Regions from separate parts of the Homo sapiens genome. Here region 1 is linked to region 2. A link means that fine-mapping ties the variant in region 2 to the expression of a gene that starts in the linked region. Tissue or cell type: whole blood. Region 2 holds a variant in brackets; the other region holds the start of a gene. All regions are shown on one strand. Distances are from middle to middle.

Evidence for each region. PIP is the estimated chance that this variant, and not a neighbour inherited with it, causes the effect.
Region 1: it holds the start of ANKRD33B, and the variant in region 2 is fine-mapped to the expression of ANKRD33B in whole blood (INTERVAL, PIP 0.97).

What each region holds. Positions count from the first base shown.
Region 1 is chr5:10,558,895-10,568,499 of GRCh38, forward strand. ANKRD33B (ankyrin repeat domain 33B) reads left to right here and starts at 5,176. Exons shown (of 4, transcript NM_001164440.2): 1 at 5,176-5,939. The coding sequence starts at 5,574. RefSeq lists silencers at 4,760-5,619, 5,960-6,009, 6,980-7,029 and enhancers at 5,239-6,133, 6,134-7,027, 6,150-6,359, 6,680-6,729, 6,750-6,839 and 3 more.
Region 2 is chr5:10,615,465-10,625,069 of GRCh38, forward strand. It overlaps ANKRD33B (ankyrin repeat domain 33B), which reads left to right. Exons shown (of 4, transcript NM_001164440.2): 2 at 2,869-2,998. Among named protein-coding and RNA genes, the nearest start is that of ANKRD33B, 56 kb to the left of the region's middle. The variant G/A (reference allele first, on the strand shown) is at 5,597.

The DNA.
Region 1 (9,605 bases), 57 kb before region 2:
AGTGCACACATGCATTTACTTCTAGACATTTAATCACAAAGAAAACTTCCTTAAAAGAAGCTGAAGTTCCGAAATGGTTACATGAATTGAGATTGTAATAGGAGGGATCTAGGTGCTGTCAATTGAATGGAGTGAGGCCCAAACAGCAACTAATCTCTTTAATAGGGAGATCCAGAAATACACAGAGACCTTTCTTTATATTCCTAAACTGATGAGAAAGGTAATCTGGCCTAGTGATTCCACAGATTGACTTCAGGACACTCTAGGTTGCTCCCACGAGTGTGGGAATCAACTCAGAGAAATTTGCAAAAACTCCAAAACAAATCATTTTGGTTTTTAAAAACATGAGTGTTTTAAAACTGTTTTTTAAAAAATGAGTGACTAAGAGATGTCCCGTTCCCCACTCACTTCTTCTCTCGTAGGCAGTGGGAGAGCTGGAAGAGCCTGTTACAAACCTCAGCCCATTAGCATCTCCCAGCTCTGTCTTTTGAGAAGATGACTGAGAGGAAGGTGGTATTGAGAAAACAAAGCATCCAGCCTTTGTGAAGCTGAGCCTTAAGGTCCCCTCTCCAGCCCTGGCTGACCCCAGACCCTCGTTTTCTTCTCTGGCATCCAACTTCAAGGATTGGCCTGTTTCCCTTTAACTATAGCTACCACTCAGCTCACTCGCTGAAGAAGGCAGAGCCCACGCCTCCTGGCACAGTTTCCCTTCGGCTACCTAAGGCAAGCGAATGAGTCTTTTTCATCGTAATGAGCTGTATTTCCCTCACTATGGAACAACAGGGGCTAAACAAATTAATAAATATGCTCAGCTTTTCCTTCTTGGTTTGTGAATTCTCTCTACGTTTTGGCTATCATCCTAACCACTTGCCACAAGCAGCACAATTAATGTTTTTTCTGCAATTAATGTTTTTTCCCCATTTAGCTTGCTCTTTCTTTCTTTTCTTTCTTTTCTCTCTCTCTCTCTCTCTTTCTGTGCTGGGATTACAGGCATGAACCACCGCGCCCGGTCGAGTTTTTTTCTTAATATGCTGTTTTGCTGAACTGAGTTTTAGTTCCTAGTAACAGAGACTAACTCTGGAAAGCTTTCGTCAACGACAATGAAAACAACAGCAGCAAAAGAAATTATCAGACGGTTGTTATCTCATGAGATCTACTTTGGATTAGTGCTGTCATGTTCCCCTCCAAGCATTCACACAGGAATGTGGTCATGTCATTTCTAGAACAGTATGAAGACAAGTAGGATCTTTACAGCCCTGAGTCTTCCCATCTGAGCTTGAGGTCTGGCTCTCCCAGTCTCTCTCACTGAGAACAATTTTTACACATAATACTGGGGTTTAAAAAGCTCAAGCCACTTGAGGTGGGATGTTTTTCTGAGGAAATACCTGGACAAGGGTGCATTTGTGTCCACTAAGGAAAATGTTGGAAATACCCTAAACATCAAGAATAGGAGATTGGTACCCCCACAGTAACAGACATTCAAAATCTAGAACTATTATCATTGTAACTTAGCAGTGGTAAAGCCATAATTGGAAGCCAGCCTGTCTGATATCACTATCTGGTCTTCACCCCAAGCTGCACTGCCTTCTATACACATTTCTCATTCACTTCACCTGGGCTAGCTCTCTCGGCAAATAAGGCAATGAATCTGGAGAAGCAGGTCCTACAGAACAATTTATATCAAGGCGAATGGATACTTTAATTTTCATACTAATGAAAGTTAACACTGTTGCTAAATTCCAGACAATGTGAGAAGGTTTTAAATCACTCTCTCCTTCAGTTCTTCATTTAGCCTTGGGAGATGGGAACTGGTTATTTTATTTTCTTCTTTGGTGAGGGATGGCGTCTCACTCTGTCATCCAGGCTGGAGTACAGTGGCACAATCTCAGCTCACTGCAACCTCCGCCTCCCAGGTTCAAGCAATTCTCCTGCCTTAGCCTCCCGAGCAGTGGGGAATATAGGCATGCAGCACCATATCTGGCTAATTTTTGTATTTTTAGTAGAGATGGGGTTTCACCATGTTGGCCAGATTGGTCTCGAACTCCTGACCTCAAGTGATCTGCCCACCTTGGCCTCCCAAAGTGCTGGAGCTAGTTATTTTATGAACACTGTGGTGCACTTGTGTGCTCCTCCACCACTAGGTTCCCCCTGCCTCCCTCCTTCCAAACCAAGGTGGGGCAGGCCCTATAGGTGCATGCAGTTTTCTCTCTCTTCAAGATAAACATACTGCTTGTAATTTTGAAAGGCATGTTACAGACATATAACTGAGCTAGTGCTGAATTTTTAAAAAATGGTCCAAAGACAAATTATTCAACTAAATGAACAAATTGTGTAATTGCTATGTATATCTTTCAAAATCATAACAAAATAATTCATTGAAACTTGACAGTCGGATAAAATATAATTTCTCAGTACTTCTCTTTTTGTTTTGAGACAGGGTCTCACTCTGTTGCCCAGGCTGGAATGCAGTGGCACCATCAGGGCTCACTGCAGCCTCGACTTCCCCCTCAAGTAGCTGGGACTGCAGGCACACGCCACCACACTAGGCTATATTTTGTATGTTTTGCAGAGATGGGGTTTCACCACGTTGCCCAGGTTGGGCTTGAACTCCTGGGGCTCAAGGGATCCGCTAGACTCAACCTCCCAAAGTTTTGAAATTACAGGTGTGAGCCACCACACCTGGCCTCAGAATATTAATTTAAGTTATCCTGAGTCGGCAGTTTTGATAAGCTACTTTCTCCTACCTATGCAGATTTTGTACATATAATAAATGTTGGCTTTACTAAAAATGCCTATGCCTGATTTTGTGTCTTTTTTTTTTTTTTTGGTGTTTTGTTTTGTTTTGTTTTTGAGACGGGGTCTCGCTCTGTCGCCCAGGCTGGAGTGCAGTGGCACAATCTCTGCTCACTGCAAGCTCCGCCTCCCGGGTTCACGCCATTCTCCAGCCTCAGCCTCCCCAGTAGCTGGGGCTACAGGCGCCCGCCACTGCGCCCAGCTAATTTTGTTTTTGTATTTTTGGTAGAGACAGGGTTTCACCATGTTAGCCAGGATGGTCTCGATCTCCTGACCTCGTGATCCGCCCGCCTCGGACTCCCAAAATGCTGGGATTACAGGCGTGAGCCACCGCGCCCGGTCGATTTTGTGTTTCTTTTAGCCCATCTTCCAGAAATGTCCAGACTCTACTGTCTTTGTTGTAAAAGAAGCATATTTTATTTTTTATTTATTGTTTCTTCTTAGCGGTTTATTTTTAAAAGACAGGAAAATGATCAGCTTGCATCCTGAATCGGACCACTTACTTATAAACGATAGTTCTTCTTTGAAGCAGACGATGACATTTTAGTTTATATTTAAGGGGAAACACATTCAAATGCTATTTGGACTCAAATTTCTAAGGAAGAAAAGGAAGTGGTAAACTCTGAAGATAGAACCTCAATTCCCTTGCTGAGTGACGCGGTCAATGAGCACCAATCGCCTACGGGAGGCCAGAAAAGGCTGCGTGGTGCTCCCCTCTCAGGGCCTGGCCCTGTCCACCTGGGCCTTGGTGACCCGCAGCCGGGACTCTTGCTGTAAAGTGACGCAGTGCTCTCCCTGGGAGGACAGTGGGTCCAGCAAACCCAACTCAGCCCTCAGGGGGCACTTGAAATTGTAACTACCCCAGGCCTTTGGAAACAACCCTCAACCTTGAAAGGGGAAATTCCCAGTGGGAATTGATGCAAACTGTGGTCAGTTACACAAAAAGGTAGAGTTTACTGTAATCTGGGGGCTATTTTTGGTTGCAGAAAGAATCCCCGGAGTAGAGAAGGAGGCCAGCGAGTCTCAGTTCGCTGCTCGCTCAGAGCCGCCCAGGTGCGAGGGCGTCTTCACCAGAAATCGGTGCTCCCGCGCGCCCCACCCTCCGGGGCCCTGCAGATGCCGGGTCGGGGGCCGCCAGCAGGCCCTTTGGCTCCTGCTGGAGACACTGGAAGACCAGGCGACCAGGACAGCGGGTCGGGCCAGTGCGGTGTGACACGAGGGCTCGAGCGGCTTCGCAGTTTAAACGTGTCCTCATCCTACACCTCCCACGGCTGTTTCGGATTCGGTGCCCTCGTGCCCCTCAGCTTGCCCAGCGGCACGTGGGCCTCAAGCCTGGTCCCCAGCGGCTGCGCCAGCCTAGCTGTGTTCACCTTGGGGCCGCGAGGGCCTCCCACCGGCTGGCAGCTGGTGGACACGCTGTCAAGATCGGGGGAAAAAAAGGAAGGAAGGAGGCTAGGGGGACACAGGGCTGGTGGCCTCCGCAGTCTTTGACCTGCGACGGGCGCGAGCGCACCTCCGCGCCTTTGCGCAGAGACCTTCCCCCAAGATTGGCTCACGACGCCTCCTACCCCGAAGTCAAGGGCTCCCTGTGGCAAATCCTCACACGCCCTCCTCCTCCCCGCCCATCCCCGGCGCCAGGACTGACGGGGAGAGGGCAAGGCCGGGCCAGAGGGGCTGTGGGCCTGGACTGCGGCTGTCGCCCGCGGCCCTGCTCTTTTGGGCAGCCAGACGTGGGGTCAGCGCCCAGTCGCAGCCTCCGGGGGTGAGTCCGCAGATCCCCGCACGTGACACAGGCCAGGCATGGGGACGGGGAGTTCCTCGTCGTCCGTTCCCACTCAGATGCTCCCTGAGGTTCCGGAACACCCCGCCCCCCATCCCAGGATCTGACCAACCCTCAAGCCACGGCCGGCCCCGGTTCCGCGAGACGGGGGACTCTGAGGATTGTCCTCCCTTCCGGGCTGGGACTCCCCCACAGCAGCCGACCGCCCCCAGTTCAGAGTGGCCCGGCCCGCAGCGCTCCCCGGGCACAGGTCCCAGGTGGACGGCTCCGCTCCCGCGCCCGGCTCCTCTGCCCGCCAAGCGCCCCGGGGATTCCCCGGCCTCCAAGCGGCCGCGGCCGGGTGGAGTCAGCCCCGAAGCCCGGGATCCCCCGAAGGGAGAAAACCCGCTCTGCTCCTCTGAAGCGGCGGGAGAAACCGGCCCCACCCAGGTCCGGGGGCCCGACGCCCTCGGCGGAGGCCGGCTCCAGGGGTCCGAGGTTCCCGAAGCTGGAGGCCGGCTCCGCCCCGGCGTCCCCCCGCCGCCACCTCCGCCCCCATCCCGCGGGCCGGCGGAGGGAGGGGCGGGGCCGCTTGCCGCCCGCGACTCGGGTTCGGCTTCTTTAGTGATTGCTTCTGCTTCTCCCGCGCCAGCTGTCCCCAGCTCTGGGGCAACGCTGCCAGGTGCCCAGTCCCCGCGCTCGAGAGAGCGCCTGCCTGGCTCTGAACTCTGGCCAGGAAGGGGCGCGAGGGGAAGGCCCCGGGGGAAGGCGTGTCCCCGCGCCCCGCCCCGCCCCGCCTCGGAAAGCCCCCGCGGTCCCGCCCACCCCAGGGGCTCGCTCAGCCTCCGGAGACTTTTTTCTTTGAGCGCAGCCGCCTGGTGCCGGTTTCCGCCGAGCTGGAGCGCGCGGGCCACGGCTTCTCTGGGGACGCAGAAGCGAGAAGCGGGGACCTCGGCGCGCGCCCCGCGTCCCGCTCTTCCTGCCCGCGCCCCGGCCCCCGGCCCGCGCCCCGGCCGCCGGCATGGTGCTGCTGGCCGGGACCGGGCCGGAGGGCGGCGGGGCGCGCTGCATGACCCCACCACCGCCGTCCCCACCCCGGGGCGCGCAGGTCGAGGAGGACCCCGCTGACTACGAAGAGTTTGAGGACTTCTCGAGTCTGCCAGACACCCGCAGCATCGCCTCGGACGACTCTTTCTACCCTTTCGAGGACGAGGAGGAGCACGGCGTCGAGAGCGCGGAGAGCGTCCCGGAGGGCGTCCCGGAAAGCGTCCCGGAGACGGCGACCCTCCTGCGCGCCGCCTGCGCCAACAACGTGGGGCTGCTGCGGACGCTGGTGCGGCGCGGGGTGAGCGTCGAGGAGGCGCAGGAGACTGACCGCAACGGCAGGGTAAGCGGGCGTCCCCGCAGGATTTGAGCCCCCTCACTGCCCCCACTCCCCTCCTCCCCACCACATCCCCGCGCCTCCCAGCTCCTGGCTCCGGACCGGTCCCTCGGTCACTCAGCCGCCGCCCAGAGCGCCTTTTCCCCGCTGTTTGGGAGCGCGGTGCCCTGGGTGGCTTCCCCGTCTCAGGCTGGGGGACGCGGTGCGGGGAGGGAGCAGTCGAGGTGTCAGCGCGGCAGAAACGCCAGTCCGGCGTCCTCACCGCATCCCCTTCTCGTTTACCGGTCCCCGTGGACCTCCTGACTGAATTCGCGCTGGCTGCCCGTGCTGCAATCCAGGATGGGCTTCTTGCGGCCCGGTCCCCTCCTGACTATTACCTTTCCCCAGGTCCCTGGCAGGGGACCATTCCTCCTCCCCTGCAGGAGACAGCCCCTCCTGCCCAGCGCCCCATTTGGCCCCTGGGCCCCTCGCGCCGCCCTTGTCCTAACACGCTGGGGCGCAGATCGGCTCCTCCAGCCGCAATGATTTGGAAGCAACAGTTTCTTCCCTCGCCGGGACAGCTTGGTCCCCTACCCCACCTCCGCTGAGCTTTGTGGCCCGCGCCGCGACCAGCCAACGTGATCTCTGACTGGTCTGTCCGCAGGTCACCTTCGCGAGCCAATGCCAGCCGGGGCTCCCCAGAGTCAGGGCATAGGGAGAGCCCCAGAGCCGCGGGCATCCACCCGGGTAGGGCAGGAGGCGTGGAGGCAGGCACAGGCTATCCTTTCGTTATGACCAGATTCAGAGAAAACGAGATGTTTAGAAAAGAAAAGAAAAGAAAGGAAAAGAAAAAAAGTTGGCTTAAGAAGACCTGAGAAGGACTGGCTGGTGGAACACCTTCCACCAAGCAAAGCACTTCAAGGGAAAACTGCAGAGTGACCACGGTGGCCAAGTTCCCCGTAGTCTGTGCTCAGTGGGCAAATGGCAGCGTTCTCACCTGATTTTTGTATTGTCCAAGGACCGTGGTATCTGCAGATGCAGCCTAGCACAAATGCACATGCTTTTTGCTCAGGAGCCTGCAGCTGACAGAAAACATGTGCTTTGACTTGGGGACCCGGGTGACCTTGTGCCTTTGGTTTATCCTGCAGTGGGTGGGGCAAGTGGTTTGCCCTGACTGTGGTTTGGGCTGGGCTTAGGTGGATGGGAAGCCCTCCAATGTCACTCTCCCCTTGTACTACATTGCCCCCGTGATTCAATTACCTCCCACCGTGTCCCTCCCACAACACGTGGGAATTCAAGATGAGATTTGGGTGGGGACACAGCCAAACCATATCACACAACATTTGAACTTGGAGGAAGGGTCTGTGCTTGTCATATGTTAGGCAGTGAGACCTGAGGTGGCGTCCCCGTAGGTAGCATCACCTGGAGCCCTGTAGTTCCTGCTGCCATTCCTCTTGCAATGCCTCCTCCCCCAGCCCTGGCGACAGATGCCCTGGCTGGCATGTGATTAGGGCTTGGAGCTCCACCCGAAGTCCTAGGGCCTGTTTCTCAAGTTCTACATTTGGTTTAACTGAGTTTTCAGGCCCAGATGTGTGTAATCAGAAACCTTGCTTTCTGGAAGCCAGTATGGGGGCCCGCTTTAAAGGAAGCCTCACCAAGCTCATAAAGGAACAGGTGGGGTGGGCCTCTCCCCCTGTCCTGGGCAGCCTGGTGGTCTCCAGTGGGCTGGAATGGGCACAGGAGGGGCCTGGCTCGCCCAGTCCCCACTCTAGGGCACCACTGGGCTCAGCTTTATATAATGTTTCCTTTAGGGGCAAAACATAAATGTTTGAAAACAGCTGCATTGAAGAAAACTGACAGCAACGTAAACCATCCCCAGGGGCTCGAGCCTAACAGACTGAGTCTCCAGGCCACACAGCAGAGAGGCAGGGGAGGGCCGTGGTATGGGAGGCTAGCTCCAGCCTCCCAGCAGCTCTCTGCCTCAGTTTCCTCGTCTGTAAAATAGGGATAAGGGCAGCCTCTCCTCTTAGGATGTGAGCATAAAATGGCTTAGTGCCCACAAGGCTCTGGGAAGGCCTGGCCCCAGGCTTGTGTTTACCATCGTGTTTCTCATTCGTCTGCCTTCTCTTGGCTTGGAAGAGAGCACCTTCCAGTTTTATTTTGTTTTGTTTTGTTTTTTGTCTTCTGCCAGGCAAGGCTTTTTCTCTCGCTGCTTTTCTTCCCCTTTGATTACAGCAGAAGTGAAGACTTTGTTTCTCTGTGTCACGTAAAATAATGATGTAGGCCCGGACATAGCCTGCTAACTTAGAGACCCTTGGACTCTTTCATCTTTGGATCAGACGGAGCAGGGCTTGTGTTCTGTGCTTTGTGAGGCCAGTGGGGGGAGCGAGGCAGGAGCCTCCATTCTTTTCATTAGCTTCTCAAGGCTGTTGATCAAACAGCCTCTATCTTCCTGAAAAACAGCTGAAAGAATCAAGTGTGGCAAAGCCCTGATGCCCTGCTCTGTGGTAAATGGAGTGAGTCATTGCCAAAGTGTTTACCGCAGACCTACTGTGCTCCCGCTAGGTACTTTAGCAGACTCAAAACTGAATCTGGCAGTCCCTGCCTTTGAAGAGTCCTAGCCTTTTAGTGAGGAGAAGAACTTGCAGAGGAAGAGCGGCTAGCTGAGACCTAGGAAACTGGGAGACGGACTGCTTTTCACATGACGGTGTCCGGTCTCCCCGACGGCAGTGTGGGTCACTCCCTCTCTGTCTGCAGGCTCCTGGTTTAAGGGCACCTTCCCTGGGAGGCTTTTCTGTCTCCTCTTGTCCAAGCCTACAGAACCTGGAGCTGAGCAAGGGTAATGTAGGCATTCACACATTTAGGGCTGAAATTATAAATAGGATGGTCATTTAGAGAGCAGGTGACGTTTGAGCAGAGACGGCATCTAGGGGAAAGAGGAGTTAGACGGAGGGAACAGTGTGTGCAAAGACTGAGGTGGGAACCTCGTTGGAGCCTGGTCTCCAAGCTTATCATGATTAGTGGCAGTGAAAACCTTAAAGAAGGCCCGGACAGCTTTGGTGCAGTGGAGGGGTAATTGCATTAATGACAGAATGACAGCTCACAGATACAGCCCACAGCCGGCTTTCTAGGAGGAAATGATCTCTAAAGGCGTCTAAACTTTTCTGGGACATGCTTGTTGAGCTCTTCATCTCTGGGCATTTAAGAAGGGAGCTTTGCCTGAGCTGACAGGCATTCCATTTGGTCTGGGTAACTAAGGGTCAGATGTGTTTTGTTTAAGAAAATGCATTCTCTCCTGCCTCCTGAGATTGGTAGAATGTTGGATGTGGCTCAGCACACCATTTTCCTTCTAAAATATTTATTGCTCTAAAAGCATTGCATGATTTAATATGCAACATGTAAATATTTGTCAGATAATTGCCCAATAACATTCAAAGCTTGCTTCCAATGTCTTCTGGATTTATGGTTGTTTTGTTCCTTCTGACTTGAGGCAGTGCAAGCTGCCATAATTCTTTTTCTTAATTCTTCTCTTCCACTTACTATCACCTGAAGTTCACCTTTATGGCCTTGGCGGCTCTTGAGATGACAGTGAAAACACACAAAGTGTGTTGTTTTAATTGTTGCAGAAGGGCAGTTTAAATGTCAGACAGCTCTTGGACTTAATTAGGCCCAAATACATGCTCAATTTAAAAT
Region 2 (9,605 bases):
TAATGACAATTCTACCCCACATAGAATAGGATAGTCTGTATCTACCAGGAATTTTGACACAGAGTTACTTTTATTGATGTGAAGATATTGCTGATATAGTCCTAACTAAGACATATAGCAAATGGTCCTGTTTTAGTTTGAAGAAAAATGTGTGCATATGTGTGTGTCTGGTCTATAACTTTTTTTCTTCTCTTTAATTTTTGGATCTTTTTCTGCAATAAATATGAATTACTTGTGTAATTATATGCAAAGGAAGATGTTACATTATGTTCAATATGTTTTATTTATAAGTCAGGAAATTGTAGAATACTAGAGCAATATCTCCATCCAAAGAAGTTAAAAATGATTTTTGGGTGCTCCCTGGTGGGATGACAAGTTTTCCGGCACATTTATGCGAAAGCAGGTGGGTAGGTTAGCTGGGAGAATGGAGGTGGTGGTGGCAGCGAACTCTTAGTTCCCAAAGAGGCTGAAAACCTCAGTGGCTTTTAAGTAGAGCCTGCCTGCAGCCCACTCTTTTCTATTTAAAATTAGATTATTGTGAAACATTTCACCATATAGATGGAATGACCTATTTCAAAGGGTGCTTAAGCTAGATTATATTAAAGAGGCTTTACCATAGTCAACAGTTATTGAGTTGATTATGCTGTGGTATGGATGTCAGTGTTAGAAAATCAATGGTATTCTGTAGAACTTTAAACATGTGAATATTTGTGATTTAATATTCTTCTGTGGGGCAACTAGGAGCCTTATTGAGATAAGTGGGCAGGGCTACTCGAGTCCTCTTGTTGTTCCATGAAAAATTATATTCTTACTAAAAATTGGCCGGGTGTGTTGGCTCACGCCTGTAATCCTAGCACTTTGGGAGACTGAGGTGGGTAGATCACGAGGTCAGGAGTTCGAGACCACCCTGACCAACATGATGAAACTCTGTCTGTACTGAAAATACAAAATTAGCCGGGCGTGGTGGCACATGACTGTAATCCCAGTTACTTGAGAGACTGAAGCAGGAGAATCGCTTGAACCCAGGAGGTGGAGGTTGCAATGAGCTGAAATCGCACCATTGCACTCTAGCCTGGGCAACAAGAGTGAAACTCTGTCTCAAAAAAAAAAAAAAAAAATCTGGTGAAGATTGGGCTGGGCCACTGTGGAGTTGCTCTCAATATAAACTTTGTGCCTCTCATGCAGTGGTGGTGTGACTGGCAGTGCCAAGAGTGACACTTGATTGCCTGGTCATTAGCTCCTGCCCTGGGTTGAATTTTAGCATCTCACCGTATCTACGTCTGTGAGGCGGTGAGCCTCACACCTGAGTCTACGCTGTTTTCCTTTGTTACGAGGTCTCTTCGTCAACTTGGGTTGCTGCAACAAAGCACCATAGACTGGGTACTTATTCAGAATGGAAGTTTATTCCTCACAGTTCTAGAAGTCCAAGATCTTTTACAGAGTGGAAATTTATTTCTCACAGTTCTGGAGGCTGGAAGCCCAGGATCAGGGCGCTAGCATGGTGGGGTTCTGGCCCGGGCCCTCTTCCAGGATGCAGACTGTAGACTTCTCTCTGTGTCCTTACATGGAGGAAAAAGGCACAAGAGAGCTCTTGAGGTCCTTTTTATAGGACACTAATCCCATTCATGAGGACTCCACCCTCGTGATCTAATCACCCCACCAAAGCCCCACTTCCTGCGCCATTCCACTGGGAGCTAGGATTTTAACATTTGGTAATACTTAATTAATAGATCTACAAAATCAACTATCAGTGTATGTATCCAGCTTGGTTCTCTCTCCATGACTCCACGCTGCTATTCATCTCTACCTGACGTCACCACTGGGTTGTCCAGAGACAGTCTCCCACAGTACACTGAAGTCTGCGTGCCATCTGTCCCCACGCCCGCTCTGTCCCACATCCTGTCGCTCTCATTTGATGGCAACTGCATCCTCTCAGCTGCTAGGGCCGAAACTCTGGGGTCATCCTGGACTCTTTTTCTATTCAACCTCACCTCCATTCTAACAGCAAATCTTCCTTTCCAGAATCCAAATTCGCCTCCCCAGCTGCTGCCCCCACCCTGGTGTGACACCATCCTTGCCTGCCTGGCCCCACAGTGGTCTCCCATCAGCCCCCTTCCTCCACCCCATTCTTCTAGAGCCTGTTTCCCACCCAGCAGCCAGAGTGGATGCAGATGATTGGCAGCCGATGGCTCAGGACACTCCCCCTACTCAGGGGGTCCCCAGGCCCCTGTCCACGGTCTCTGAGACCTCCTGTTGCCTCCTGGACCCGGGTTACTCCTCCTCTTCTCACTCACTCTGCTCTAGCCCTGCCGGCCAATGGGCTGCTCCCTGGATGCACCAGGCACAGTCCTGAGTTGGGGCCCTTGCTTGAGCTGTTTCCTCTACTGGGGCATTTTCCCCTCTCTGTGTCCCTGTGGCCCACTGCCTTGCCTCTTTCACACACGGACCCCAACATCACCTCTGCCAAGCCCAGCCTGACCACTCTATTCCCTAGAGAGCTGCACCCGCCCTGCACACACCTTTTTTACCCCATCGCCGTCTGCCGTGCTCTGTCGTTTATTTCTCTACGAGCCCCATAGTTGGTGTGTTTCCCTCCCTGGAGAAAGCACACCCCAGGAGGGCTGAGACCTTAGCAGTTCACTGATGTTTTCACGTCTAGGCCCTCACTCGAGTCAGTGCTCAACACACATTTGAGAAGGATCGAGCGGCTGGCTCACTCTAAACCATCTCTGAGAATTGGGACTCCAGGTCCCTGTCATTGCCTTGTCCAGCCCCCTGGAGGGTAGTGGGTGCCCCTCGGGGTCCCCAGTGCTGACCCACCATGCTCCGACTCTGCCCCTCTGACCCGCTTCCCCTCTTCATTTCTAGACCGGCCTTATTGTCGCCTGCTACCACGGCTTTGTGGATACCGTGGTGGCCTTAGCAGAGTGCCCCCACGTTGACGTCAACTGGCAGGACAGCGAGGGGAACACAGCCCTAATCACAGCTGCACAGGCAGGTAAGAGCTGGCTTTCCCCTTTCCTCTCAGAGCCGTGGCCAGAGCACCGCCGCCGGGCAGCCCGGGCTCCCGTTGCGATGCAGTCAGGATGGAAATGATCAGAGACCATGTCCTGCTACCAAGGGGTGCCAGGGAAGGGCTGATTGCTGTGACCACACGCTATGCATTTACCCACTTGTTCAGAATTCAGTATGGGCAGATCAAGCTCCGATACTGCCCAAAGTTTTTGAATATGAATCTGTACCAGAAAGCCACCCTTGTCACCGCTTCACCTGAAGCCTCACACTCCATCCTGCTCCCGAAGACTGGGGGTGGCACGAGGCTGGCAGACCCACCAGTGGAAGAGACACAATCATGTGTCTCAGTGATAGTTAATCATGAAAGTAGACACGTGTAGAAGGTGACTTTGCACTTCACCTGTAGAGTTAAAGAAACGCCAGGAACTGTTTCTGAGAGCTGTTAGAGTATCCGTGTAACAAGCTGAGATGAAGTCAGTGGGAGCATCTTGTGAGCGGGTATCCAAGCATGTGGCCCTCAGCCCATCAGTCATCAAGAAGACAGTGCTTATGTCAATATTGCCAAGTGCATTGCGACTCTCCTGCTTTGGAACTGTATCCAGACATTTTTTTGAGGACAGACATGAAACCTATGCTTGCCTCTTCATAATCACACTTCATTTGGAACAGTGGTCTTGACCAGGTTTATCACTGACCCCTTTCACATTTCTTTGCCTCCAAAGATTCTGTCTGTTTCATCGGTCAAGTTCTCAGTTGCAAGCAAAGAAGCTGCCTGCAGCTGAGCCAGGAAGAACAGGCGCTTGTGTGTTGAAGGAAGGAGGGGAAGCTTACACGGTTGTCGGGTTGTTGAGAATCCCACTCAGGGCCTGGAAACTGGAGGAAGTGCCCCCGACCACACTGTATGTTGATTCTGGTTGGGAAATGGCTGTTGCTGTCACCAAAAGGAGACCTCCTTGTCCCTTGTTGCTTCACAAGCTCCTGGACCAAAGCCACCCTGGGTGGATCTGATGGGTGGGGGGCCAGGGAGGCTGGAAAACCAGTGTTTGACAGTTTCATCCCCTGTGGTGGGAGTGGTCTGGGCACCCTACTTTTCAATCAAGACGAATAGAGTGGGGGAACTCTTCAAACTTAGAAAGGGCCAGGGGCTGTGCTAACATGTGTTCACCTCCTCAGGTTTCGAAGCGTGAGGCATCACTTCCATGGAGGGTTCCAGGCTTTGAAAACCTAGCAAGAGTGTGAAAGGGCTTTGTAAGGCATTCAGTGATTCGTTTCCTCTCGTGGGCCAGCTGCCATGTCAGGGACCAAGGATACAGAAGTGCAGGGCAGCCCCGTCCTTGAGTAATTCTGCAGCTCATGGGACAGAGAAACACACGAAGCCCAGCACCATCTGTCTGCCGGAGCTTGGTGCTGTGGGATGAGAACACTCTATCTAGCCTGAAGTTCATGATAAGGTCTTGCAAGAAGGGGATTTGAGCTGGGGCTGAGAGGGAGCCGGGCAGTTCTCAGGAATGGCGAGTCTTAGGGACAGTGTAGGTGGGCATGGCTGTAGGATGGCGTGTGTCTAGGAGAGATGAGGGAAGGATGGGGACCAGACCATTAAGGGTCTAAGCCCAATGCAAGGGAATGTATTTCAGTAGCGTGAGGCTGCGTGAGTGGTGACAGGGGTGAGAGGATCCCAGGGGCGTAGCAGAGGGCTCAGAGCACAGGGAAGGGCCGGGAGCTGTGTGGCTAGAAACACAGTTGGCGGTGGTGGTGATGCGGGCCATGGAGGAGAGCTGGGGGTCTAGGATGGCTTTGGGCTTTGGGACAGGGGATAACACCAACTGCAAAGGGCATATAAGTAAAAGAAGATGAATGGGAGGAACATTGGTTTTGAGCTGGCTATCATGACTTTGAAATGCTCTGAGACCTCTAAGTAAAGAGGTCTCCATGGCAAGTCAGGAAGAGAAGGAGCTCCAAAATCTGGTCCCTGCTAGAAATACAGATGAGGGACAGGTGTTGCTGGTGAGAGCTGGGACAAGGATTAGGTCATGACAATATGAGAATGTACGATAAGAGGGGATTTCTTTTCTTACTGATCTGCCAGAGCTCTTTGTGCGTTAGAGATAATAGCTGTGCTTTGATACCCATGAGGTGCTTTCCAGAGTCTTGCCTGTTTGCAGGTGTTTTGATTTTATATTCACCCATGATTGTTTCTTCAGAGTCAGGAGCACATCGTATATTTTTGGCAAGAATATGGCATTGGCCATGATATGTCCTTGGTGTGTCCTATCAGGACACATACTGCCAGTGTGTCCTGGTGTGGGTGATGCTAAATTTGACGAACTGCTTACATTTCTCCATTTTAAAGGCAGATATTTCCCCTCTGTAATTAGTAAGTAATCTGCAAGGTGATACTTAGAGATTGTATGAATATCCTGTTTCCCCACCAGTTTTTGCCATTGATAATCCTTTTCTGAATCATTTATTTTACACTTATTATCTGATATTTTTCTATAAAGAAGAGCTTTCCTTTAGCCCCACCCTTTTTTTGGTACCATTACTCATTTTTTAAAAATCTCGTGTGTTCTACTTCAATAAC[G/A]CCTTTGTTCTTTTCAGTGCTGAAGTTATCCCAAACCCAGCCAGTTGGTAACCCTGAAGATGGCTCCAGTGTCCTTTTGTCATATTTCTGTCAGTTTTGAGTATTTTCTTGATTTATGGCACACCAAAGTGTTCCACATTCTCCCTGGACTTTCCCAGTCCCTGTCTGTAACCAGCTGTATCTTCAAGGAATGATAGTTCTTTTTTTAGTGAGGAATGGTATTTAGAAACCAAAATCTGGACTCTAGCTGTGCTCATTCACACTAAATGTTATTGCTTCTAGGCATTTCAGTGAGCAGAGTTAGAAAAAAAAATATTTAAAAAATAAGGATACCTCCAATCCAAATGCAACACCATAGTATTCCTCCTCTTCACCCTTTCCATATGCTTCCCCCATTCTTTGTCGGCAAGAAACCTGGTTTGCAGCAATCACAATGCATTTACCCATTTTCCTGTCCTACGACAAATGTGCACAAAGTGGTGATACTAAAGGATAATTTTCAAAAGCTTAAAAATTTGACTCTTAGGTGGACAGAAAGTGAAAACTCATTAATTAGTGATGGGCTAGTAATTAGTTAAGGCCAGTTCAAAGGAAATTTGAAGAACAGGCACATAGAGGCAATCACAAATGCTGAAATACATCTGCTAATAGATGCAAAACTGGTTAATATCCTATAAGGCAATAGAATATAATGTTGTGGGTTATCTTTTCTATAAGGTGATGTTATGGACTGAATGTTTATGTCCTCCCCCTCAAATTCATATGTTAAAACCCCAACTCCCAATGTGATGCATTAGAAGGTGGGGATTTGGGGAAGTAATTAAGTTTAGATGAGATCATGAGAGTAGGGCCACCATGATGGGATTAGTGTCCTTATAAGAAGAGGAAGAGACCAGAGCTCGCTCCTTCCCCACCATGTAAGGACACAGTGAGAAGACAGCTGCCTGCAAACAGGAGGAGGAGCCTCCAGAACTGTGAGAAATAAATGTCTATTGTTTAAGCCACCTAGTCTATGGTATTTTGTCATAGCAGCCTGAGCTATAACAGGAAGTAAATTATATCTCTACCAGATACAATGCAATTGCCTTGCTGTGGACAATCAGTTTTACAGCTTAACTTCTAACCTTGTAGAGTTGTGGAGCAGCCTAGGAACTGAATACTGCCAGAGGGTCCCCTGGACAGCACCCAGAACCCCACATCCAGCACCAGCACTTCCCTGGAGGGAAAAGAGACCCAGTCACCTCATTAGCTCAGTTTCCAGCTATGAACAGTTTTTTTTTAACCAAAGAATCAGAAATTAGAATACCACCACTGCTACCAGCATCAGACCTAAGTAAAAGCCCATATTTCTTTGTGGTTGTTTTCTTCCAACATATTCTACCAAAAGTTATTGGTCTTATAGCACCATATTCAAAAACGCGGTTAAATTTTTTTAACTTTATGCAGTCTCTCCAGATTTCAAATTGCTTCCCTTTCCACAAATGCTTATGTTTTTCACTGAGTCAGTGACCTATTGAATTTTTCTAAGAATATGGATTGTTAAAATTTGAAAAATGTTCTTTTGCTTCTTGCAATAAACCAATTTCATTTTTTAAATTGTTTCCTAGGCACTAGACAACCGGGGAGCAATCGATCTATTTCAGATGAAGATGCTGCCCTGAAACCTGTAGCCCAGCCCCTTCTTTTTGAATCTCACTGTCTTTACAGTGATCCAGGGTTGTTTTTTGTTTTTGCTTTATTTTATTTTATTTTTTTTTTTTTCTGGCTTGCTCATTCTTCTGCAGGGACTGTGCTCATCCTTCTCTGGTTTATTTTAAGTCAAGGATGACACAGGTCCTCTTGGAGATTGGAGGGCTCTCTGGCAAAGGAAGAAGGAAAGGGCTCCAGCTGATTTCCATCCAGGCTCAGTGCCCAGCAGCCTGGGGCGTGGTGGGAAGAACTCGGGTCCAGGTGCAGGCCCCGCAGCCACTCCCCTCCTGGGCTGTGTAGTTTTACTTCCAAGTTGAGTGTGGCATGGGAGCCTGTAACAACCAAGGAGCAGCCCCCACCCTTTGCCTGGTGGGACCTCAGGGGGAAGGTGGCCTCGGGAGCTTAGTGCCCTCCCTGGCCTCATGTGCCTGGAGTGTTGAAAAATGGCATCAGTGGGTCTCAAAGCGTCCCCATAGACCACCTCTCCTTTTCTGCCCTTCTATCTGTGGGGCATTGCCGGAATTTTGCAGGGTTCACTGAATTAGGTGTAATACCCCATCCTCCTCATCAACAGAGGCCTGTCCCTGCCATCTTCCTTAAGGAACAGAAATTGGGTGGTGTCCCTCGATGGTTCTAGTCACACTCCTGGCTTCTCTCTGTTGCCTTTGGTCACAGATGGTGTCTTCATCTGCTTAGGCTGTGATAAAGGAAATAAGCAGCTCTCTGGGGCCTCTTTTGTGAGGGCACTAATCCCACCACGAGGACCCCTCCGTCAGGACCTAATCACCTCCGAAAGCCACCTGCTGTAGTGTCATCCTGGAGGCAGGATTTTCGCACAGGAATTTCGGAGGACAGAAACATTCAGACTGTGGCAGGTGGGAAGCTGGATAGGAGGGAAGATTCCTGTGTTCTCAGCTCTCTTGGGAGCTGGCCCACCCAGGGGTAGCCGTGCTGCCAGACAGAGCTGGAGTCCAAGTCAGGTAGCAGGATCGGGTGGCCGGGGTATGTACCAGGGTCTGGGCTATCCTGAGGGCAGCATCACAGCTGGAAACCTGCCTGGGTGGACAGGAGGAGGCGGGCAGAGGCCTCAGCCATTATCCTGCTTCCTCCACTTGGCCTGGCTGATGTTCTTGGAGGCTGATTTTAAAATACAATACACAGTGTTTGGGGGGAAAATGACCCCACATGAGCAAGGAAATTAGAGGTGAATACCTCTTCCACCTCACTGTCAGCCCTCTCTTCAGTCTGCTCTCTGGAGATAACTGTTGTTAATGATTTGATGCCTAGATGGGTTTACTCTGCCTTTTCAATTTAAATAAAATCATTATTATAATGTATTTTTTCTTTACTTCTTGTTTTCTTTCGTTCTTTCTTTCTTTTCTTTTTTTTTTTTTTTTTGAGTCTGAGTCTTGCTCTATCGCCCAGGCTGGGGTGCAGTGGCACAATCTCAGCTCTCTACAACCTCTGCTTCCCAGGTTCAAGCGATTCTCTTGCCTCAGCCTCCCGAGTAGCTGAGATTATAGGCGCCAGTCACCGTGCCCAGCTACTTCTTGTATTTTCAGCAGAGGCGGGGTTTCACCATGTAGGCCAGACTGGTTTTGAACTCCTGACCTCAAGTGATCCGCCCACCTTGGCCTCCCAAAGTGCTGGAATTACAGGCGTGAGCCGCCGGGCCTGGCCTTTTTTTTCTTTTTTACTGGCTTTTGTTATCTTCCCCTACTTACTGATTTGCTTGAGCTCTCTGTGGCCGCCACTGTGTGCACCCACCCTCTGGCCTGGGCTCTGATCCCTGGACACCCAACCTAGGCTGCTGCCTGAGGCTTTGGGACTGAATTGTTGAGGTTGCATACGGAGGCAGAGGGGAGAGGGACTTTACACCATTTAAACAAACACAGATTAAAAAGCTTCCTTGTGTGTGTCTTAATTGCCTCAATGTGCCGAAGAGATTTTCCCTAATTTCTTTCTGAACCTCCAGGGGCTGCCCCTGTCCCCATGGGCATAGTTTCCTTAGACACTGGCTCCCAATCTTGCGCCTCCGGCGTCAGCATCACCTGGGCTGGCTCATGTGAGCATTAACACAGATCTGGTGGAAACACAGACTGCCAGGCCCTGCCCCTGGAGTCTTTCTTTGAATAGGCCTGGGGTGGGGCCCAAGAATGAGCAGATCAACAGGTTTCCTGGTGAGGCTGATGCCACTGGCCCAGGGACCCCACATTGAGGATGGAGAGCTTTGAAGATTTTATGCCTGATGACGGCAAAGGACCCCTCTCAGTGGGCACTGAAGACCAGCAGAGTCACAGACCCCACGAGAGATGTTGTC